3 separate regions of the Homo sapiens genome follow, and regions 2 and 3 are each linked to region 1. The links come from fine-mapping of genetic effects on plasma protein levels. A gene starts in region 1. Each other region holds a variant in brackets. All regions are shown on one strand. Distances are from middle to middle.

Region 1 (8,168 bases):
TTTACCAGCTCTTCCACTCCCCAGGGAGGCCCTGAGTGGAGAGGTCCTCTACATCTAAGAGGTGTCCAGGCCAGGATCTGAAAGCCACATCAGTGTGGCCTGTTAGGCGTCCCAGAAAGGGGAGGTTATGAGCGATGGCCCTTTCCCTACCATCAGCTCAGCCACCCCCCATCCCCCCCACCTCCCCAACCAGAGAAGGACCTTCCCAGCGGCCAGGCCAGAGGGCAGTCACTTCATCATGGCAGGTGGCAAGAGGATGAGGGAGCCCCAAACAGGTGCACACACACACACACACGCATGCATGCAGGCACACTCACACACATGCATGCATACACACACTCACACATGCACATATGCACACACACACACACAGGCACACAAACACGTGCGCGCACACACACATGCACACACATGCACACAAACACATGTGTGCGCACACACGCATGCACGTACACTCACACACATGCACACGCATGCACACACGCGCACACATGCACACACGCACACACACAGTGTCCCTGTATCTCTGTGTCTATTTTGTGTTCTCTGAAGGCAACTGTGTGTTGTTTTCTCTAACTCCTCTGTCAGTCTCTTATCTTCTCTCTCTCCCTGCTTGCCCATTTTTCTTTCTCCCTGTCCTTGTTCTTCGGTTGCTGTTTTCTGTCTCTCTCACTCCCCCCACACCCCCATCTCAGATTTCCCCTGAGCCAGTCTGTCTGTGGGTCTCTTCTCTCTCCCTCTCCCTCGTTTCCCCACCTCCATCTCTATCCCCAGCTCTCTCTCTCTCTCTCTGTCTCTCCCTCTCTTTGCCTCCTCCTCTATCACCCTCTCTGTCTCTGCCTGAAATTCTCCTCTCCACAGGCTGGGGAAGCCCCCGAAACCCATGGGCCTCACCCATGATCCCGCAGGCAGGCAAGAGCTGGGTGAGGCCCAGGTGAGTCACGAGGAGGAAGGAGCCGACATCCCTGCCGTGTTTCTGGAGAGTGTCCAGGTCCTGATCCCTGCATTTCCCTTCCCTTTACACGTCAGCAGAACCTTACAGGTGTGTGTGTGTGTCACTTGAGGGAGAGACAGAGAGAAAGAATCAGAAAGAGAAACAGAAACAATGACACAGAAAGAGAAAGAGAGCCATGGGGAGAGACAGAGAAAAGGGAGAAGCAGAGATAAAAAGACATGAAGAGAGAGACAAACAGATACAGAGATCGAGGTACAGAGAGAGAAAGTGATAGAGTTGGAGAGAGAGAGAGATAGGCATTGAGAGAGAGAAAGAGGGACAGAGACAAAGAAAACAACAAAACAGAGAGATAGAAAAAGACAAAGACACAGGGAGAGACAGAAATTTCAGGAGGCGAGGGCAGCCTTGGGCAGGGATGAGTGGGCTCTGAAATACCTCTCATTCGTTAAAGAGGAAATTGGCTGAGCATAGTGGCTCACACCTGTAATCCCACCACTTTGGGAGGCCAAGGCGGGAGGATCACTCGAACCCAGCAGTTCAAGACCAGCCTGGGGAACAGACCAAGGCTCCATCTCTACAAAAAACACGAAATATGAGAAAATAGCCAGGCATGGTGGTGCACACCCCTAGGTCCCAACTACTCAGGAGGCTGAAGTGGGAGTTTCGCTTGAGCCCAGGAGTTCAAGGCAGCAGTGAGCTATGATCATGCCTCTGTCTCAAAAAAAAAAAAAAAAAAAAAAAAAGGGAAATTGGGAAATTGTGGCTTAGAGAAGTGAGGTCATCCCACCAGGAAGTGGTAGCAGCACAGCACACAGCTCCGCATGACCCTCAAACCTGAGTTTTCTCTTCACTGAGAGATGCCCCCTACCCACCCCAGACCCATTTCATAGGTGGCAAAGCCGGGGATTGATGGAGTGAAGCCATCTGCCCAGGGTCACCCAGAAGCAAGTGGCTGAGCTGGGTCTCAAGCCTGCTTGGACCAACACCCCAACTGTCTATTTCCCCACCTCATGTACATTCCGATCTAGTTTAGTTTTCACACCAGCCCAAGAGGGATCCCCTTCTCCAGCTGAGAAAACTGAGGCTCAGAAAGAAGAATGTCATTGGCCCAGGGTGACCCAGCCAGGGAAGTGCCCACTTCAGCAGCTGACGCGTGATAACTGTTGACGTCAGACTCAATGACAGGCCTCCATCTCCCTTCCTACTCCAGGAAGAGGTGAATGTCCAGAGTTGCAACAATGATAATACTGGCAGCTATCGCTTTTATTGAGCACATACTATGTACCAGGCACTGTGGCAAGCATCTTAGGAGCATTCTTCTTTTTGTTTGTTTGTTTGTTTGTTTTAGATGGAGTCTAGCTCTGTCGCACAGGCTGGAGTGGAGTGGTGCGATCTCGGCTCACTGCAATCTCTGCCTCCCAGGTTCAAGCAATTCTCGTGCCTCAGCCTCCTGCGTAGCTGGGACTACAGGTGCATGCCACCACACCTAGCTAATTTTTTTGTATTTTTTAGTAGAGACAGGGTTTTGCCATGGTGGCCAGGCTGGTCTTGAACTCCTGACCTCAAGTGATCCACCTGCCTTGGTCTCCCAAAGCACTGGTATTATAGACATGAGCCACCATGCTCAGTCATTTTAGGTGGATTCTTTTACCTCCGCAGTACACCAGCCCTGGGAGGGTGATACTTGCTATCTCTACTTTCCAGATAAGGGGCTTGGGCACAGAGATAGATTAAGTAACCTGCTAGAGGTGACACAGCCAATATGTAGATGCAATTTAGATTTTCACAATCTGAGACCAGCTCCCACACTCTTAACCATTGGGCTATACTACCTCTTAGGAAATTCTCTGGGAGTTCTTTTTTTTTTTTTTTTCAGTCTCACTTTTGTTGCCCAGGCTCGAGTTCAGTAGCTCGATTTTGGCTCACTGCAGCCTCAAACCCCTGGGGCTCAAGTGATCCTCCCACCTCAACCAGAGAGTAGCTGAGACCACAAGTGTGCACCACGACACCTGGCTAATTTTTCTATTTTTCATAGAGACAAGGTCTCGCTATGTTGTCCAGGCTGTAATTTTATTTTTTTATAGATACAAGGTCTTACTATGTTGCCCAGGGTGGTCTCGAACCCCTGAGCTCAAGCAATCCTCCAGCCTTCGCCTCCCAAAGTGCTGAGATTATAGGCATGAACCACTGTGCTCACCATTGGGAGTTTTTTTGTTTTTTGTTTTCTAACCTTATCTTAAAATCATTAGCTTACAGCTTCAATGAGTTAGTAAGAATCACATAGTACAGGCTGGAAGCGGTAGCTCATGTCTGTAATTTCAGCAATTTGGGAGGCCAAGGTGGGTGGATCACCTGTAGTCAGGAGTTAGAGACCAGCCTGGCAGACATGGTGAAACCCCATCTCTACTAACAATACAAAAATTAGGGCCGGGTGCGGTGGCTCACCCCTGTAATCCCAGCACTTTGGGAGGCTGAGGCAGGTTGATCATCTGAAGTCAGGAGTTCGAGACCAGCCTAGCCGACATGGCGAAACCCCATCTCTACTAAGAATACAAAAATTAGGGCTGGGCGCAGTGGTTCAAGCCTGTAATCCCAGCATTTTGGGAGGCTGAGGCGGGTGGATCACCTGAAGTCAGGAGTTCAAGACCAGTCTGGCCAGCATGGTGAAACCCCATCTCTACTAAAAATGCAAAAAATTCGCCAGGCATGGTGGAGAATGCCTGTAATCTCAGCTACTCAGGAGGCTGAGGCAGGAGAACCTCTTGAACCTGGGAGGCAGAAGTTGCAGTGAGCCGAGACCGTGCCATTGCACTCCAGCCTGGGTAACAAGAAAGAAACTCCGACTCAAAAAAAAAAAAAAAATAGCCAGGCATGCATGAGAATCCCTTGAACCTGGGAGGTGGAAGTTGCAGTGAGCCGAGACCACGCCATTGCATCCAGCCTGGGAGACAAAGTGAGACTCTGTCTCAAAAACAACAACAACAACGACAACAAATCACATAGTATAATCATTATTACAGCAGTAGAAGTAGCTACCACTTACTCATCCCCTACGACTCTCTTCCTCTCCTAATCTGTTCCAGCCACACTGACATCTCTTCTGTTCCTAGAATCTCATCAGGCTTCCACCTCAAGGCCTTTGCACTGGTTGTTCCTGCTCCTTGGAAAGGTTCCCTGCCCATCTGCCCTACTTCTTCCCTCACTGCATTCAGCCTCTGCTTGAATGCCACTTGCTCAGGGAACCCCTCCTGGATCACCCACCTAAAACAGCTCACACCTCATTTGCACCCAGATACTTCCTTCAGCCTGCTTTGTTTTCTCCAGTTTGCTTATCCCTCTCAGACAGTGAAAGATTAGATAACACATATCTGCTCCCCACTGTCAACACAACAAAAGGTGGGAACTTTGCTTTGCGTCCTGCTGTGCCCCTAGCTCCTGGACCAGTGCCCAGCACAAAGTAGGTCCTTGGTAGATGTTAAAGGAATGTGTTGAGCCCTCCATTTCGGCCAGCAGCTATTCCAGGCATTGCACCTACATTAAATTGCTCTGTTTAGTTAGATGCATCCTAAGACGGGGAGACAATTTTATCTTTAGTATTTTATTTTACTTAAAAAAAAAAAAAACTTGGCCAGGTGCAGTGGCTCATGCCTGTAATCCCAGCACTTTGGAAGGACAAGGCAGGTGGATCACCTGAGGTCAGGAGTTCGAGACCACCCTGACCAACATGGTGAAACCCCATCTCTACTAAAAATACAAAAATTAGCCGGGTGTGCTGGCGTGCCCCTGTAATCCCAGTTACTCAGGAGGCTGAGGCAGGAGAATTGCATGAACCCAGGAGGCGGAGATTGCAGTGGCCGAGATTGCACCACTGCACTCTAGCCTGGGTGACAGAGTGAGACTTCGTCTCAATAAATAAATAAATAAATAATAAAAAGAAAGAAAAAACTTATTATAAGCCTTTTCAAACCCACAGAAAAGGAGACAGAATGGCATAATATGCCCTTATATACTGATTACCTTTATATAATTGATACAACCATTTGGCTATTTTGCCTTTATTTTCTACTCAAGTATTTATTTATTTATTATTTTTTTGAGACAGGGTCTCGCTCTGTTGCCCAGGTTGGAGTGCAGTGGTGCAATCATAGCTCACTGCAGCTTCCAGTTCCCAGGTTCAAGCGGTCCTCCCACCTTAGCCTCCCAACTACCTAGGACTACAAGTACGGGCCACTGCACCCAGCTAATTTTATTTTATTTTTAATTTCTTTTGGAAAGATGAGGGCTCTTTATGTTTCCCAAGCTGATCTTGAACTCCTGGCCCCAAGTGATCCTCCTGCCTTGGCTTCCCAAAGCATTGGTGTTACAGGCATGAGCCACCTCATCTGACCTCTTCTAAAATATTATAAAATAAATACAGACATCAAAATGAAAACAAAAGAAAAAGAAAAAACAAAACAAAAATCCCCAAAACAACAACAACAAAAAATGCAGACATCAATAACATTCACCACTAAATACTCTAGTAAGCATCTGCAAAAACAAACAAACAAACAAAAACCAGAATCCCACCTAAGCATACAGCCATTGTCGTAACAGTGATATCTACTTTTTTGGCTGAAGTGTCTTTTTTTTTTTTTTTTTTTTTTTCTGTGAGAAGGAGTCTTGTTCTGTTGCCAGGCTGGAGTGCAGTGGCACGATCTCGGCTCACTGCAACCCAACCTCCGCCTCCCGGGTTCAAGCGATTCTCCTGCCTCAGCCTCCTAAGTAACACACACACGCCACTACGCCCGGCTAATTTTTGTATTTTTAGTAGAGACGGGGTTTCACCATTAAGTGTTTTAATGTAGGTGCAATGCCTGGAATAGCTGCTGGCCAAAATGGAGGGCTCAACACATTCCTTTAACATTTACCAAGGACCTACTTCGTGCTGGGCACTGGTCCAGGAGCTGGGGGCACAGCGGGAAGCAAAGCAAGGGTTAAGTGTTTTAAGTGTTTAAGAGATGCATATTTCAGGATGCATCTCTAGATAAGGACATTTTCCAAAATACCAGTATCCCTCCTGACAAAACTAACAAAAATCCTGTTAGCCAAATAATCAGCCACATTCATATTTACCGTCAAAGTTTTTATCCTCATTTTACAGCAGTGGAGAGCGATTGCCCCGGGTCCCACGTTAGGAAGAGAGAGAACTGGGATTTGCACCCAGGCAATCTGGGGACAGAGCTGTGATCACAACTCCATGAGTCAGGGCCGAGCCAGCCCCTTCACCACCAGCCGGCCGCGCCCCGGGAAGGGAAGTTTGTGGCGGAGGAGGTTCGTACGGGAGGAGGGGGAGGCGCCCACGCATCTGGGGCTGACTCGCTCTTTCGCAAAACGTCTGGGAGGAGTCCCTGGGGCCACAAAACTGCCTCCTTCCTGAGGCCAGAAGGAGAGAAGACGTGCAGGGACCCCGCGCACAGGAGCTGCCCTCGCGACATGGGTCACCCGCCGCTGCTGCCGCTGCTGCTGCTGCTCCACACCTGCGTCCCAGGTAGGGGCTGGGTCCCGAACGCCTGCGCCTGGAACAGGGTCTAATTGAGGGGGTTGGGGGTTGTCAGAGGATGAGTTGGAGGAATGCGGTTCAGTCCTCAGCATCCTCCCTAATCAAATAATAGTAATTCTCGTGCTTTGTGCAACGCCACGCGGCGCAGTACCTGGCACTCAGTAGCTAAGGAAATATTAGTGGAGCAAAGGCATTTAGCTTTACATAATTTAGTGAGTGCTTTTTTTTTTTTTTTTTTTTTTTTGACAGAGTCTCACTCTGTCGCCCAGGCTGGAGTGCAGTGGCGCGATCTCGGCTCACTGCAACCTCTGCCGCCCGGGTTCAAGCGATTCTCCTGCCTCAGCCTCCTGGGTAGCTGGGATTACAGGCGCCTGCCATCGCGCCCGGCTAATTTCTGTATTTTTAGTGGAGACCGGGTTTCACTCTGTTAGCCAGGATGGTCTCAATCTCCTGACCTCAGATGATCCACCTGCCTCGGCCTCCCAAACTGCTGGGATTACAGGCGTGAGCCACCGCGCCCGGCCCAAGTGTTCTTTTTTTAAATGGAGTTCTTCGAAGCCTCTTCCTTGCAATTTCAAACTAGGCGATGGGACTTTATTAATTTCGTTTCGCAGAGGAAACTAGGGCACAGAGAGGTTAGATAACTGGCCTAAAATCACACAGCCAGTGCTTGAATACGCAGGATCTGACCCTGCAGCGCCCCCCAGCGCTCTCCACGCTGCTGGGTCTCCCCCTCTGAGAAACGGGGGGACAGGACCCCCTTTTACAAAAGGCCCAAAGGGAGGCTGACTGAGCGGCGCAGAGCCAGTGCTGGAGACCCGGGACTGTCCCTCAGGACCTTTCCCTCTCACTGAGGCGACTCTCACTTACTTCCCCGGAAAATGTGGGGGGCTCTGGGTCGAGGAATTCGAGAAGGAACTGAGTCAGGGCGGGTGGCCACAGGGTGTTGGGGCCGCGATGAATAACCCGGAAAGCGCTCGAGACCGCGGGAGGCCGGGAATGAGTAACAGCTCCGGGATACTCCGAACGCGCAGCTGGAAAGGGATGTCCGGGAAGGCCCGGAGGTCGGGGACCGGGCCTAGGGACTGGGCTGCAATCTCGGGGCGGAGCCTGGGGCGGGGAGAGAGTGTCGGGGAGGAGCCAGAGGGCGGGGCTGGAACCTCAAGGAAGAGCTACGGGAGAGGTTACAGACCGAGGAAGAGCTAGGAGCGGGGCTAGAACCTCGAGGCGGAGCCAGAGGGCGGGGTTATAACCTCGAGGCGTAACCAGAGGGCGGAGTTATAACCTCGGGAGGAGCTAGAAGGTGGGACTAGACTCTTGAGGGGCAGGATTATAACCTCGGGGAGGAGCTAGAGGGCGGGGCTGGAACCTCAAGGAGGGGCTAGGGGCGGGGTTATAAGCTTGGGGAGGAGCTACGGGGCTGGGCTAGGACCTCAAGGGGCCAAGGGGCGGGGGTTACGACCTCGGGGAGGAGCTACAGGGTGGGGCTGAAACCTCAAGAAGGGACTGGGGCGGAGTTATGACCTCAGGGGAAAACTAGGGGCGGGGAGAGCTAAAGGGCGAAGTTAGAATCTCAAGGAGGAGCTAGAGGGAGGGACTAAAGCCTCGAGGAGGAGCTAGGGGCGGGGTTATGGCATCGGGGAGGAGCTAGGGGGCGGGAAGATAAGGTCA
Region 2 (8,144 bases), 110 kb before region 1:
TAAGCCTCAAGCAGCCCTGTCACATAGGAAACATAATCCCTCTTTTACAAGTTTCACAGAGCACACAACTATGGATGGCAACTAGGTTTGAACTCAGGTTTGTCTCTAAACCAGGCTGTACGTATAACATATTCCATACAAAAATAAAGTTAGGCCGGGGGTGGTGTCTCATCCCTCTAATCTCAGCCCTTTGGGAGGCTGAGGCAGGTGGATCATCTGAGGTCAGAAGTTCAAGATCAGCCTGGCTAGCATGGTGAAACCCCGTCTCTACTAAAAATACCAAAATTAGCCTGGTGTGGTGGTGCATGCCTGTAGTACCAGCTACTTGGGAGTCTGAGGCAGGAGAATCGCTTGCATCCAGGAGGTGGAGGTTGCAGTGAGCCAAGATCGTGCCACTGCACTCCAGCCTGGGTGACAGAGCGAGACTCTGTCTTGAATGAATGAATGAATGAATGAATAAAGTCAGTGGTCACATCGAGGCTTAAACCGAGGTCTCTAGACTTCCATATTGTGAGATATAGATATCTGTATATCATATACATCTGTATACACTATACATCTGTATACTATGCCATATACTATACTACATATCTGCATATACTATATATAGAGTGTGGGTGTATGTCTCTGTGTAATAACATAATATACATACATTTTTAACTGGCGGGGAACACAGAGATACAAAGAAGAAAATAAAAGCAGAAATGAAGAAAAAAGGAGAAAGGAGAAAAGCATGCACTTGGAGACTAAGACCAGGAGATAGAAACAGAGAAGCAAGACAAGGCGCAGTGGCTCACACTTGTAATTCCAGCACCTTAGGAGGACGAGGCAGGAGGATGGCTTGAGACCAGGAGTTCGCGACCAGCCTGGCAACATAGTGGGAACTGATTTTATGACCAAAAAAATGTTTTTTAATTAAAAAGAGAGAGAGAGAAGAAAGAAAGAAAGAAAAGAAAAAAGAAAGAGAGAGAGAAAGAAGAAAGAAAGAAAAAGAGAAAGAAAGAAAAAACAAGGACAATGATATACAGAGAGAAAAATGAAGACTGAGAGCAAAGAAGAGACTGAGATTGATGGAATCACGAGGTCTCCCTCCTTTAGCCTGGAAACTCCACAAGAGCAAGAATTTTGTCCATTTTTGTTCATTACATATCGCCAACTCCTTGAGCAGTGCCTGGCACTCAGTAGGTGTTTTGCTCTATGTTGGCAAGAAACCAGGCTGGACAGGGAGAGTGTCTGCAGTTGCCTAAGTGAACACTAGGTGACAGTATTTATAAGCCCTGGAGCTTCCAGGCTCCAAGGTCCCAGAGATGGCGGTGGAGGATTTGCCGCCACTGACCTCTGACTTTCAGGATCTCTTCCTCGGGGCTCAGCCCTGCCTTTCCCTGCACAAGCCTTGGGCGATGAATGACCTTTCCGCCTGAGACACCCTCTTCACTCTCCTTCACCAGCCTGCCCAGTTAAACAACTCTTTGTCCCTGGCCCCTTCCTGCTGGGCCCCGAGGCACCTGGGTTCTTTCCAGGCCCGGAGATGGGGCTGCGACAGAGGTGGTGCAGCTGGGACAAGGCCAAGGAAAAATCCTGGAGACTCTGGAATCAGTTCTTCCAGTGTATGAGACCCAGCCCCTCCTCCCTCAGACCCAGGGGTCCAGACCCCAGCACCTCCTCCCTCAGACCAGCAGTCCAGGCCCCAGCCCTCCTCCCTCAGACTCAGGAGTCCAGACCCCAGATCCTCCTCCTTCAGACCCAGGAGTCCAGGCCTCAGCCCCTCCTCCCTCAGACCTAGGAGTCCAGATCCAGCCCCTCCTCTCTCAGACCAGCAGTCTAGACCCCAGCCCCCCTCCTCCCTCAGAACCAGGAGTCCAGACCCCCTGCCCCTCCTCTCTCAGACCAGCAGTCCAGACCCCATCCCCTCCTTCCTCAGACCCAGGAGTCCAGACCCCAGCCCCTCCTCCCTCAGACCCCCTCCTCCCTCAGAACCAGGAGTCCAGACCCCCAGCTTCTTCCTCCTGGACCCTTCCTCTTAGGCATTTTGAGGTCCTCTACTATTCCCTCTCCCTCTCTTTTACACAAACCCCTCTCTCCCTCCACTCCCCATTCTAGGATTGAGACCAAGGGTGAGTCACAAGAAGCCCTGAGGCCCTGAGTCACCTCGCCCTCCCCCCTTGGCCCCTCCCTGGGCTGGAGGCAGCTGGCTGAGGAGTGAAGCAGTTTCCTAGGACTGACCCCTGCATCCCAGGACTGCAGTTTGAAGGCAGGTGCCCTTCCCACTGTAACCCCATCACTGCCACCCAGGCATGTCCATGCCCATCCTTTGCTGTTTTTCTCTTTCAGTCATGGCCTATTTGGAGACAAAATTTCTCTGTGCTCTAACTTCCGTGTCTTGATTGTGTTTTCCGGTTTCTCTGCACCTGTGGGTCTCTTTGATTTTTTTTAATACATGCCCCCACCATCCCTGGCTGAATGCCTCGAGGTCTCTCTGATTATCTCTCTCTCCCTCTGTGTCAGTCTCTGTCTCCGTTTTTCACAAGTGCCTGAACTGGGGCACAGATGCCATGGCATGGCCGCAGCTGGAGCGCTATTTAGTGGCTTCTGACCCTTGGGTGGCCACAGTCTCTGGATCACTGGCCCTCAACCCCTGAGTGGGACTGGGGTAGAACCGGAAGGAACCAGGCTGTCCGTAGATGTGCCAGTGAACAGCAGAGAGAAACTGAGGCAGAGACAAGCATAGAGAGGCCCGGAGAGAGAGAGAGAGACCCAAGAGGAGACCAGGAGGCAGGGAGAGAGTGAAACAGAGACGGAGAGAAACACCGATTCAGCAAGAGACAGACAAAAACAGAGGGCCCTAGAGACGGAGAGATGGAGACAGAGTGAGACACGATGACAGAGACACAGGCAATGATGAACACAGAGAGAGACATGACAGAGAGACAGTGACGGGGAAAGAAGGAAACAGAGGAGCAGAGAGGGACACGAAGATGGAGAAAGGGACAGAGCGATGAGAGAGACACAGAGAGGCTAAGAGAGGCAGAGACAGAGAGACAGAGTGAAGAGAGACAGAGAGAGACAAAGGTACCAGGAGAGAAGAACAGAGACAGAGATAAAGACAAACCTGGCCAGGCACGGTGGCTTACGCCTGTAATCCCAGAACTTTGGGAGGCCGAGGCGGGTGGATCACCTGAGGTCAGAAGTTCACGACCAGCCTGGCCAACATGGTGAAACCTCGTCTCTACTAAAAATACGAAAATTAGCTGGGTGTGGTGGTGCACACCTGTAATATCAGCTACTCGGGAGGTTGAGGTAGGAGAATTGCTTGAACCTGGGAGGTGGAGGTTGCAGTGAGCCGAGATCGTGCCACTGCACTCCAGCCATGGGAGACAGAGCAAGACTCTATCTCAAAAAAAAAAAAAAAAAAAAAAAAGACAAACGCGGAGGTTTCCAGATCAGGAGAGACTGAGACAGGAAGCAAGTCCCAAAGAACCAGAGAAAGAGCCGGAGAGGGAGGAGAGAGACGCAGCGAGCCGGGCGGCCAGTGGGCAGGGGTGCCCAGGCTGCAGGCTCAGGAGTGCCCGGCGGCTGCACTTTCCCCAAGTGGACGCATGTGTGGTGTCTGGGCGCGCCCGGGTGTGTCTCCAGCCCTCTCCCGCCAAGTCTCGCCGAGTGGGTAATTGTGTGTGCCGAGGGGCGGAGCCCCCGCAAGGGTTGTGTTTTTGCCACTGGGCGTGTCCATGTGTATGGTTTGGTGTCTCTGGGTGTGTTTGTGTGGGCTGCCTTGGTGTGCAGTCAGACATGTCTGTGCGTGTCTCGCTTCCCTGGGGCTGGTGGGTCCAGGGTCCCACACGACCTAGGACACAAGGAGGGGGAGGGTTGTGTCCGCAGGTTCCTTGCAGAGGGGTGTGCATGAGGCCAAGGGCAGTGTCACCAGTTCAGTGCATGATGCTGGGAGGTGATGTGCGTCACCAGGTCAGTGCATGCCTGTGTGTCTCCACAGGAGGGTTTGATCTGTGTCGGAGCGTATGGTGTACAGATCCATGAGTGGCTCGTGCTGCGACACATGGAGATGTCCTATGTTGTGTGTTGCTCTGAGAGTCACCGTGCACATTCCACACTGGCATTTGCTGTATCTCACGTCAGGGTCCATGTCCCTGTTGGGGGCCTCTTCCTTCTCAGCCCCCAGCACCCACCCTGAGTGCCAACCACCCCAAGTGTCTTGTGTTTGTGTAGCTGTGTGTTATGTTGTGTCAGAGGATACACCCCCCTCCCCCGATGCTGGTGTTGTGTGGGTGGCGGTAGACCTCAGTGTCAGTAGTATCAGTGAGT[G/C]GTGACATCTGGTGTTTTATGGGACATGTGGTCGTTTGTGGAAGGTTGGGTGTGTTGGAAAACATTGTGTTTATGTGTTTTGCGTTACTGTGTGCTGGTGTATTACTCCGCGTATGTTGTTGTGTGGCCACGCATGTTGGAATATAACGTGTTGGGTTGTGTGGAGGTATTGTATGTCATGTTTGGGTGTGGCTCATGGCTCAGAGGTGATGGTGTATGTTGCGTTTGTTTTTTTGTTTTTGCTTGTTTTAGAGATAGGATCTTGCTATGTTGCCCAGGCTGGTCTCAAACCCCTGGGCTCCAGCAATCCTCCCACCTCAACCTCCCAAACTGCTGGGATTACAGGCATGAGCCACTGCACCCAGCCGTATGTTGCATTTGGGCACTGGGGTCTATGAAGGTCCAACCCCATCCCCTTCCCCCAGGGCATCATCCTGGATGTTGTCCTGTGTGGCCAGAATATACCAGAATCATCTTGCTTCAGGCATGTGCTTCTTGGGTTTCTCCGTGTGTCGCTGTACCTTGTAGGTCTCTGCATGCATCCACTCAGCTTGTCCTCTGACCATACATTTGAATCGCACCACACATCAGAGCATGCTGAATCAGTGCGTGTTTTGAATCATCACTGCGAGCACTTGTGTTCGAGTCAACAGGCGCCACAATGTATGTGCAATTCTCTAGCTCTGGGTGATTGGGGGCTACTATAGGTATGTCCCTAAATGTTGTGTGTCTACACGTATTGGGTTTCGTTCCAAGGGTGTGTAGTGTTTAGGAAACTGGGACTGCACAGTGTTTGTGTCGGTGTGTGGTGTGTGGCATCAGGGCGTCACTACTTTAATATATATTGTGTGTTTGTGTAACACCTGGTGTATGTTGTGTTTGTGTGGCCACAGTTGTGCATCGTCCTATTTGTGGTGTTTGGGTGTGGCTCTTTGTGTCAGAGAAAGTTGTGACAACTTTGAGTGTAATATTTGTGCCTGTGTGTGGACGGTGTTTGGGTGGCTGTGTGTGCCACGGGATACTGCCTGCTTGCTAAGTGCTGGTGTGTGTCACACCATGTGTGTGGTGTCTGGGTGTGGCTGTGGGTTTCAGAGCTTGCTGGGAGTTGTGAGTCACTCTGTGTAGGTTGTGTTGTGTGCCCTGGTGTGTTAGTCTCCGTCTTGGGCTGTGGAGTGTCCTTCGGTGTCTGGGTGTGGTGAGTAGAGGTGTGTGTCACAAAGTACAGACCATTGTGTGTGACAAAGCCCATCGTGTGTCTGTGTGTGTCTTTATCCACGTGGATGGACGTCTCTTTCTTGCTCTGCCCCAAGACACACCCTAGCCCCTCCTTATTCTCAAAAGGGGGAGCTGGGGAGCCTCCCCCTACCCTGGGGCCTCCCCTGCCCCTCCCCGCCCTGCCTGGCCGTCACCACTCCCCAGAGGGCACAGGGCTCTGCTGTGCCTCAGAGCAAAAGTCCCAGAGCCAGCAGAGCAGGCTGACGACCTGCAAGCCACAGTGGCTGCCCTGTGCGTGCTGCGAGGTGGGGGACCCTGGGCAGGAAGCTGGCTGAGCCCCAAGACCCCGGGGGCCATGGGCGGGGATCTGGTGCTTGGCCTGGGGGCCTTGAGACGCCGAAAGCGCTTGCTGGAGCAGGAGAAGTCTCTGGCCGGCTGGGCACTGGTGCTGGCAGGAACTGGCATTGGACTCATGGTGCTGCATGCAGAGATGCTGTGGTTCGGGGGGTGCTCGGTGAGTGGGGCATGGTGGCTGGGAGCTGGGACTCCTAGGTCTGAGGGAGGAGGGGCTGGGGGTCAGGACTCTTGGGTCTGAGGGAGGGGGGGCTGGGGGTCAGGACTCCTGGGTCTGAGGGAGGAGGGGCTGAGGGTCAGGACTCCTGGGTCTGAGGGAGGAGGGACTGGGGACTTGGACTCCTGGGTCTGAGGGAGGAGGGACTGAGGGCCTGGACTCCTGGGTCTGAGGGAGGAGGGGCTGGGGGTCAGGACTCCTGGGTCTGAGGGAGGAGGGGCTGGGGTCTGGACTCCTGGGTCTGAGGGAGGAGGGGCTGGGGGTCAGGACTCCTGGATCTGAGGGAGGAGAGGTTGGGGGCCTAGACTCTTGGGTCTGAGGGAGGAGGGGCTTTGGCTGGGACTCCTGGGTGCTCCCAGGAGACAGTTGCTGGGGTCCTTCTCTGCAAAAGGAAGGGAATATTTGTTTCAGTGTTTCAGTCTTTGAAGATGTTGCCATTAGACGGCCAGAGGTCCAGGACCCCTGGAGGCCAGAGGGTGGCTGATCAGACACTCAAGCCCCCCAAGAGCCAATAAGGGGAGAGGTAGCCCCAGGTTTGGTGAAGGGAGAGTGGAGGAAAGACAAAGTTCTTCCAGTAGGCGGCAGCTCTTTGGTCCTTGTCTAACCTCTAATGTTTACCCAGTGCCTTAGATGCAAAGGACAGAAAAAACTGCCTTGGGGGTGGGGATGGGAAATGGGAAACAAACCTCTCCCCCGACCTGCCTCCCCCCACCAACCCCAACCCAGTCTCCACTGTTAACAAGCTCAATTTCTCCCCAAATCTGCATGCTGATTAGTCAGGGAAATAGTGGAGAGGTAGGCTTACAGTGGCCTGGACTCCTAGGTACCAGGAGAGGAGGGGGCTGGGTCCTGGATTCCTGAGTCTTAAGGAGAAGGGGGTTTTGATTGCTTTTGGGGAAGAGGGGCTGACTCCGAAGATGAGTGGTGAGTAGGGAAGAAAGGGGAAAGTGGGGTCAGGGCAGGTCTCAGCAGGCTCCCGTCACATTCCAGCCCTGGTCAGGCCAGTGATGGGGCAGATCAAGGACAAGGGTTGGAATAAGTGGCTTGAGGGGAGAACAGACTTGCTCAACAGGAAAGGAGGGGCTGGAGACCTCTCTGGCAGAAGGGTTGTGGAACTGGGCTGGTAGGGCCAGATGCGGACACTGATATGAAGATTGGGTAGATTCCTGAGGGTCTGATGTTCCGACTTGGATCTGGAGGGGGTGGTGGGCAGCTCTGAAGTGACCAGGAGCCACATGGAGGGTCAGGCATGCAGCTTCCTCTGGCAGGCGGCGGGCACTGAGGGGGTGGGGCCGCCGAAGTCCATGCCAACAGGAAGCATGGCCGGGGCCTGCCCGCCGCTCCCACGCCGAAGCACCGCACCCAGAAGCCGAGGTGGGAACACAGTGACCCTGGCAGATGGGAAGAGACGGGGTCCATCCTACCCCACTTCACCCCTCTGCTTTCTCACCCCTCATTTCTTCCTTCCCTCCACCATGGCCAGGCCACTGCCTCTATCAGTGGGACCTTGGGGAAGCTGTTACAACCCTCTGAACCTCAGTTTCCCCATCTGTAAATTGGGGTGAGGGTTAAAATACATGACCCTAAGGGTCACCCTCCACCCTTTTTATTTTATGTAGAGATGGGACCTTGCTTTGTTGCCTAGGCTGGTCTTGAACTCCTGGACTCAGGCAATCCTCCTGCCTCAAAGTGCTGGGATTACAGGCCTGAGCCACAGCTCCTCAGTCCCCTTTTGAGGACTCTCTTAATAACATCCACCGCCCCTCACCACCTCCATCTCAATCTAATGAGCTCATTTCTGCAAAGGACCCAGACACCTGCTCCCCAGGGGGAGGGGCTGGCAGAGAGGCAGGTGCAAAACCCTAGGGAGTCCAAGGGAACTGGATAGAGATATCCAAAAGCACCAGGTGGGGTGGAGGAGGAGGGATGGGGAGAGGTACAGAGAGAGACAGAGACACAGAGATACATGGAGAGAAAAAGAGAGATGGAGACAAAAATGCAGAAAGATAGAGAAGTACAGCTAAAGAGAAAGACAAATAGG
Region 3 (8,156 bases), 660 kb before region 1:
AGTCAGCACCTGGCATAAACTTGCAGTCAACAAGAGCCCCCCACTTCTCAAGCATCATTTCAATGTTATTTGTAGGGATTTGTGAAATTTTTTAAAGGTTTATAGTTTATTACTGTAATTTTTTAGATGTTAAAATTGTCCCAAGTTTGGCCTCTTTAAGCTGGCTCCTGTGACCTTGTAACATGTCCCCAATTTTTTTTTTGAGCACTTTCTTACTTTGTTGGCAGAGAACAGTATTTTGTGCTCATCTTTACTTTGCCTTGGCTCTGGAATTATCTTTTTTTTTTTTTTTTTTTTTAACTGGGGAATGGTATTTAATGCCAAAGTCTGGATGCTAGGTATGGTCACTGTAGTATCTATGATCTATGTTTCTTTGTCTCAGGACATAGAGCTAGGGTGTGTGTGTGTGTGTGTGTGTGTGTGTGTGTGTGTGTATGTGTATGTATATACATACACATATACACACATAGAAATATGTATACATATGAATAGATGTTCAGTTTATTTCAAAAGAAATGTTCATTACAATTATACTGAAATGCCATTTCTCACCCATGAAATTGGCAAAAATTCAAAAACGTAACACTATACGTTTTTTGGCAAAGCTGTGGGGAATGAAGAACATTCATGCGTTGAAAGGAAGAATGCAAAATGATACAACCCTTAGGGAGGGGAAGTTGACAATATCTAACAAAGCTAGGTATTTACCCTTCCCCGGCAACCCATTTCTGGGGATTTTCCCTAAAAATAGCCATGTCCAAAAGAATATTAATAGTATACTACAATTCATGTAAGAAATAAGGTAAAATAAGTAAATAGACAGTGTGTGGGTACAGACATATATATATAATATATATTATTATATATAAAATATATATTATATATATTATTATATATAAAATATATATAATAATATATATTTTACACATATACAAAATGTATATATATTTTATACATATACAAAATATATATATATTTTATACATATATGAAATATATATAATATATATAAAAATATATGTAATATATAAAAATAATATATATTTTATATATATACTTATTTTTATAAGAAGAAACACAAGAAGGAAGGTTTAATGAAAATAATGGCCAGGCGTGGTGGCTCACACCTGTAATCTCAGCACTTTGGGAGGCCAAGGCAAGAGGATTGCTTGAACCCAGGAGTTCAGGACCAGCCTGGGCAATGCAGGGAGACCCTGTCTCTACAAAAAATTTAGCTGGGCATAATGATGCACACCCATGGTCCCGGCTACTCTGGAGGCCCAGGTGGGAGGATTGCTTGAGCCCAGGGGTTGAGGCTGCAGTTGTAGTGAGCTGTGATCATGCCACTGCATGCTGGCACAGGCAGAAAAGTGAGAGCCTATTTAAAAAAAAAAAAAAGAAAATCATGAAGTTAGTTTCTTATAGTGAGTGGAAGGTAACAGGGTGGAAGGGATGTGGGAGAGAGTCTCACTTGTCTGTGTATACCTTTTTGTCTAGTTTTGACCAATTGAATGTCATCAAACTTAAAAACTTTTGCTGTCCTTTCCTTCTTTACAGCACATCAGCCCTTCAAGCCAGACCTAATATCCCAGCTGGAGAGAGAAGAAAAGCTTTTGATGGTGGAGACAGAAACCCCAAGAGATGGATGTTCAGGTGAGAACTGTGCTGCAGGAACACAGCAGCCAGGGAGCCCCTTCTAGAACATGAGTCAGAACACATCACTTCTCTGTTTAAGCTTTCCTGTGGCTCCCCATTTCACACATAGTAAGTTTAAAGTACTTAAAGTGGTCTATTAGGTCCTAAGGTATCTGTCCCCTCAACCTCTTCTCACTTTCCATATTCACCTACCATTGTTTGTTTTTGCTCATTCAGTCTGTTTCAGAGGCACTGCCCCATGATTGCCCCCTCAGACCTCTCAATTATGCTTCTGTGTCAATTTCCTTGACTTGCTTTTCTCTCTGAATGAATTGGGTAATAGATGCATGATCTTTGCTCTCTTCAATTCACCCTGAGGCAGCTAATAGGTGTAGAATAAATCTGTGTAATTGAAGGGTATTCTAGAATACTGTTTCTCATCTGATGGATGCCTGTTTTAACTGCTTAGCTGTCCTTGAGTATTCATAGATGGGTAGCCATTAATCCTAAAAGATAAGAATAGCCAATCAGCTAAAGTAAGTATCAAAAATGACCAATGCCAACATTATAACTGGTCTTCCTCATGCAGCATTTTCAAGTGAGACACCCTTGTATTCATATGTCCATCTTCTTATCCTCCCATTCTGTCCCATACTCTCGCACCCAAACAATCTCTTGACATAGCCACAGTCTTAAAGTAGAATCTTCAAGTTGGACATTTATGTGAATCCAAACATTTTGATAGTTTCTTGAGTCCTCAAGACTGACATCAAAAGCCACCGTCGCAACTGTGTAGCTAAGGATGCTGCTGGATAAGAAGAAAGAGTCAACAGAAAATTCAAAACAAATTAACTCATTTCTATAATGGTTTGTTTCCATCTTGGTTAAGATTCAGGGTCCTACATGGTACCCTTGAGAGTAGGAGTTAAACTTTTTCTCTAAAGGTCCAAGTAGTAAATACTTTAGATTTTCCTGGCCACATGTGCTCTTTGTCACAGTCTTTGTTTTTCTTACACCACTTTAAAAATGTAGAAAGCGTTCTTGGCTCCTGGGTTGTACAGAAACAGGCCGAGGCCATGCTGTGCCAGTCTACCTTCCTGATACTGTCAGCTGGAACATAATGTCACCTTTTAAAATACCTTAATTTTTTTACCTATACTAACATGATCATATACCTCATATTAATGTAAAAATTTGTTATGTACATTCTTGTTTTTAATATACTAATTTTTCTTCTTTGCCGTTACCTTGGGGAAATCCCTCCCAGTCTAAGATTATAACTCTTGTTTTTGTAATGGATGCATAATACTCTAATAAACAAACTAGTTACTTCCAAGATACAATGGGGCTACAGCCTTTGGGTAAATGCCCCCATTCTGAAAGGGAGAAATCAGGCAAAACAAAGGGGCTGCAGGCCCCATGCCAATCTGAAACCCAGCAGGGCAGTCATTAAATCTCAGAGTTCGAAAATAATCTCCTTTGACTCCATGTCTCACATCCAGGCATGCTGATGCAAGGGATGAGCTCCCAAGGCCTTGGGCATCTCTGCCTCTGTGGCTCTGCAGGGTATAGCCCACTTGGCTATTTTCATGAGCTGGCGTTGAGTGCCTGCATCTTTTCCAGGCACGTGGTGGAAGCTGTTGGTGGGTCTGGGGTCTGGAGGACGGTGGCCCTCTTCTCACAGCTCCACTAGGCAATGCCTCAGTGGGGACTCTGGGGGCTCCAACCCCACATTTCCCTTCTCCATTGACCTAGTAGAGGTTCTCCATGAGGGCTCCACCCCTGCAGCAGACTTCTGCCTGGACATCCAGGTGTTTCTATAAATCCTCTGAAATCTGGGCAGAGGTTCCCAAGCCTCAGCTCTTGCCCTCTGCACACCACAGGCCCAACAGTACGTGGAAGCTGCCAAGGCTTGGGGTTTGCACCCTCTGAAGCAATGGCCTGAGCTATACCTTGGCCCCTTTTAGCCATGGCTGGAACTGGAGCAGCTACAATGCAGGGTGCCGTGTCCTTCAGCTGTAGAAAACAGCAGGGCCCTGGGCCTGAGCCACAGAACTATTTTTCCCTCCTAGGCCTTCAGGCCTGTGGTAGGAGGGACTGTCATGACTGGCTCTGAAATGCCCTGGAGGCATTTTCCCCATTTTCTTGGCTATTAACATTCAGCTCCTCTTTACTTAGGCACATTTCTGCAGCCTTGAATTTCTCCCCAGAAAATTGGTTTTTCTTTTCTACCACATGATCAGGCTGCAAATTTTTCAAATTTTTATGCTCTGCTTCTTTTTTAAATATAAGTTCCAGTTTCAGATAATCTCTTTGCCCATAAATATGAGCATATGCTGTTAGAAGCAGCCAGACCACATCTTGAATGCTTTGCTGCTTAGAAATTTATTCCACCAGATAACCTAAATCATCCCTATCAAGTTCAAAGTTCCACAGATCTTTGGAGCAGAGGCATAATGCTGCCAGTCTCTTTGCTAAAGCATAGCACCAATGTTGGGAAAATGTATAAATGCATTTACAAACCTAAATATATCTAAATATATCACCAGTTCCAGTCCCCAATAACTTCCTCATCTCCATCTGAGACCACCTCAGCCTGGACTTCACTGTCCATATCACTATCCGTATTTTGTTCAAAACCATGTAACAATTCTCTAGGAGATTCCAAACTTTCCCTCATCTTCCTGTCTTCTTCTGAACCCTCCAAATTATTACAACCTCTGCCCATTACCTGTTTCCAAAGTGACTTCCACGTTTTCAGGTATCTTTATAGCAATGCCCCACTTTTCTGGTACCAATTTTCTTTATTCGTCCATTCTCCCATTGCTGTAAAGAACTACCTGAGACCAGGTAATTTATAAAGAAAAGAGGTTTAATTGACTCATGGTTCCATAGGCTATACAGGAAGCATGGCTGGGGAGGCCTCAGGAAACTTATAAATATGGCAGATGGTGAAGGGGAAGGAGGCATGTTTTACATGGCAGAGAAAGAGGAAGAGAAAGAGGGCAGGAAGTGCTACATGCTTTCAAACAACCAGATCTCTTGAGAACTCTGTCACGAGACAGCACTTGGGGGATGGTGCTAAACCATTAGAAAGCACCCCCATGATCCAATCACCTCCCACCAGGCCTCAACTCCAACACTGGGAATTACAATTCAACATGAGATTTGGGTGGGGACGCAGAGCGAAACCATATCAGTGGTTAAGAAAGGAGTCAGCACAGCAGCTTAAATATTTGTGATCAAAACATTGTCACCACTATACCTTGTATTGTCTCTATCTAAAAGCGAAGTAAGAACGGAAGGTGATCTCAGCCTGGGTAACCTGAGCTGATGTTCTCGCTTAGCTTTTATTAAAGAAGAAGAAGAAGAAGACATAAACAAAGATTTTTTTTCTCTGAGTTCATTATAGCTAACTATTAAATTCAAAGGAATTACTTGTCTTTATGACAAATATAGCACCTTTGTTATTGAATTGATCAATTTGGGTTGCTTGAATCATTGACTTTCTCAACCTCTAAGTGCTAAAGCAGGATTGCTATGAAGATGTAATAAATTCTCAACCTTCTTACCTCAAATGATGTCTTCGGCATCTTTTGTCATGCTTAGTTTCTCCATCAAATAAAGTTCATTTATAAACTTAACACAATTTCTTATTACCATTCTACCATTGATATTGAAATAGAACTTAAATGTTGAGTTATTTAAATAAAGTAACAAGGTGTTT[C/T]GGTCTATACCATTGACTAAAGGAAATTAATGTTGTTACATGTGTGGTCTTTTTTAGAAGAGTGTGAAACAAAGTGAAATGACCTTTTATTTTTTTTCTTCCTCTATGTCCTTAACATTGCAAAACCCACTGCTCAGAGAGAAACTTTAATCTCATATATTTGAGAGATTTTTATATCATGAATTATGTACTAATTTGCATTGAAACAGTTGCTTTGTGAGAAATTGGGTTTTGACTAACAAGCTACTTTCATGTTCTCAAGCCACTACATCAGTCCCAAAAGACAGGACATATTAAACTGTATCTTTATGGATGTATATTGAGTGTTTTTTATAATAGTAAAACAAAACTACAAGGATTATGATTAACCCTAGCTGGAAGCTCAAACTTCTCACATATAAGCTATATACTTTATCTGATATGCCTCCTATAATATATCCCTTCATTTCATCATTATATGATAAAATATCATTATAATAACTGAAAGCTTCACTTTTGAGAAGGCAAAGACATCAGTAAATGTGCTTTTAAAGTACCAAGATGCATACCTACTGATATACCTTGAAGTGTTATCCCACAATCAGTGTGCTGCCCCAGAGCCTAGTGATACAGATTCATCAGTGTGGCCTTTTCTTTTTTCCTTTTTTAAAAGTTGGGATAGGGTAGGGCTTACGGGTAAGATTTTGTTCAAGAAAAATTACACCATTTTGGGTTTTTTTGAGACAGAGTCTTGCCATGCTGCCCAGGCTGGAGTTGCAGTGGCTGTTCACAGGTGCAATTATATTAATAGGTCACTGCATCCTCAGATGCCTGGGCTCAAGCATTTCTCCTGCCTCAGCTTTCTGAGTAGCTGGGTCTACAGGATTGCGTCACCATGCCTGGCTCACAGTTGTACCATTTAAAAAGTTACTTTAAAAATGAGAAAGACTCAATCCACAGGCCCTGCCTATGGGTCTTTTTGATCTTACATTTTTATTTCATCCACAGTAGATTCTTGTGACCTTTGCTTTTCTCATCAGCAGTATCACTCTGAATTGTCGCCCTACGTCTCCTATAGCCTTTCAGCTTTCCAGCAAAGTTGCCACCATCACCAGTTCCTTTCCCATTTAAAAAGCTACATTACATGCTCTTTTAGTTCTATGAGTGAGAGCAACTCAAACTATGATTTATTCATCAATGTTTATTGAGCAACTACTGTTCACTTGGCAGTGAAAGGAATGCAGTGCACAAAACAGTGTTTGTTTTCATGGATAATACATTCCAGTGTGGAGAGGCAGACAAACACAAAGAAATAAGGCAGAATTATGTTTGAGGGTAATATTCATGAAAAAACATCCCTTTTACTGCTTTTCTTCTGGATATTATAGAGACTTAATCTACTTCTAAGTGTTAGAAGAATGCATGTTATTAATTCAACCCTGTTTAACCAGTTGTCCTTAGGGAGGATATTTGTCACTAGTATATGAAGATCTGCTGTCTGCTTATAATCTGAGCTTTAATAACTAGGTAACTATTTCTACCCAAATATCCTGTCTTCAACCCTTTCTGGTGCCTCAAATTTCCTAAACACTAACATAATTTTCCAGTAAAATGGCACAAGCAAAAGTCAGTATTCATTGAGTTCTGTTCCTGGCTAATGAGCACCTCAGAGGACACCTACAGGTGCCATAATTTTTTTCTGATTTTTTTAGTTGAATTCTGTCACAGTCTTTCACATTTTGACCTACACCATGGCCGTTGATAATTGTGAAATATCTTTTGAAAAGAGTTAAAATCTGTAATGGCCTACAGGGACTTAGAAGAGCTTATTATTCTCTAAGCCCTCTTAGCGCAGCTGGCAGCGCGTTAGTCTCATAATCTGAAGAAGAGCTTATTATTCTCATGAGGATAAATAGCTCATTAGTGACAGGATATGTGATGCCTCAAACATAAAGTAAAAGTCTGTATTTACCTTCTTCAGCATATCATTTAACGCACACAGTACACTTACAAATGAACAACATTATCATGTTTATGTGCCAGACAAAAAAGAAAAACTTATTAGGACAAAAGGCGTTTGTCCATTTGCAACTATATTTTTCCAGTTTTAAGAACATCCTCTTTTCCCCTTCAGATCTCCTGGAAACCCATGATTAATCCATGATAACATGTTTATAGTTGTGTTGTTTTGTTTCGTTTGAGACAGGATCTCATTCTGTTGCCTAGGCTGGAGTGCAGTGGCATGATCTTAGCTCACTGCAACCTCTGCCTCATGGGTTCAAGTTATTCTCCTGCCTCAGCCTCCTCAGTAACGGGGACTACAGGTGTGCAACACCACGCCTGGCTAATTTTTGTACTTTTAGTAGAGATGGGGTTTCACCATGTTGGCCAGGCTGGTCTCAAACTCCTGACTTCAGGTGATCCACCCGACTTGGCCTCCCAAAGTGCTAGGGTTACAGGCATGAGCCACCATGCCCAGCCATGTTTATGGTTTTACTAAGCCTTTTGAACACAGCCATCATGTTCGATGTCCAGGTCGTGCTGCAAAGTCCTGATTTTGAGGCATCAGATATCCTGAATTATGTAGATGCTATTTGTATGTAGGTTAAATATCCCTTCTCCAAAATGCTTGGGACCAGAAGTGTTTTGTATTTCAAATATTTTCAGATTTTAGAGTATTTGCATTATACTTACCAGTTGAGCATCCCTAATCAGAAATCTGAAATACTCCAATGAGTATTTCCTTTGAACATCATGTAGAACATTAAAAAAGTTTTGGATTTTGGAGCATTTCACATTTCAGATTTTTGGATTGA

Which allele goes with the higher level. Positions count from the first base shown, and alleles are read on the strand shown. Strength reflects both the effect of a copy and how common the allele is.
For the plasma level of the protein whose gene starts at base 6,382 in region 1, C is the low allele of the variant in region 2 and G is the other (moderate association).
For the plasma level of the protein whose gene starts at base 6,382 in region 1, C is the high allele of the variant in region 3 and T is the other (weak association).

Evidence for each region. PIP is the chance, under the fine-mapping model, that this variant and not a neighbour inherited with it causes the effect. The UK Biobank Pharma Proteomics Project read protein levels with antibody pairs (Olink). The fine-mapping took linkage between variants from a reference panel, not from the people measured, so its PIPs are less certain.
Region 2: its variant is fine-mapped to the plasma level of the PLAUR protein (UK Biobank, PIP above 0.99).
Region 3: its variant is fine-mapped to the plasma level of the PLAUR protein (UK Biobank, PIP above 0.99).

What each region holds. Positions count from the first base shown.
Region 1 is chr19:43,668,383-43,676,550 of GRCh38, reverse strand. PLAUR (plasminogen activator, urokinase receptor) reads left to right here and starts at 6,382. Exons shown (of 7, transcript NM_002659.4): 1 at 6,382-6,485. The coding sequence starts at 6,431. LOC124904724 (a long non-coding RNA gene) reads right to left here and starts at 7,787. Exons shown (of 3, transcript XR_007067264.1): 1 at 7,368-7,787; 2 at 6,071-6,525. RefSeq lists enhancers at 1,018-1,117, 6,314-6,613 and silencers at 7,534-7,613, 7,654-7,883.
Region 2 is chr19:43,778,605-43,786,748 of GRCh38, reverse strand. It overlaps KCNN4 (potassium calcium-activated channel subfamily N member 4), which reads left to right and starts at 5,776. Exons shown (of 9, transcript NM_002250.3): 1 at 5,776-6,046. The coding sequence starts at 5,888. RefSeq lists cis regulatory regions at 1,096-1,543, 3,544-4,010, enhancers at 1,049-1,548, 1,549-2,050, 2,038-2,332, 3,678-3,847, 3,988-4,037 and 2 more and silencers at 2,038-2,332, 5,525-5,794. The variant G/C (reference allele first, on the strand shown) is at 4,318.
Region 3 is chr19:44,330,119-44,338,274 of GRCh38, reverse strand. It overlaps ZNF112 (zinc finger protein 112), which reads left to right. Exons shown (of 4, transcript NM_013380.4): 3 at 1,557-1,652. Among named protein-coding and RNA genes, the nearest start is that of ZNF112, 22 kb to the left of the region's middle. The variant C/T (reference allele first, on the strand shown) is at 5,362.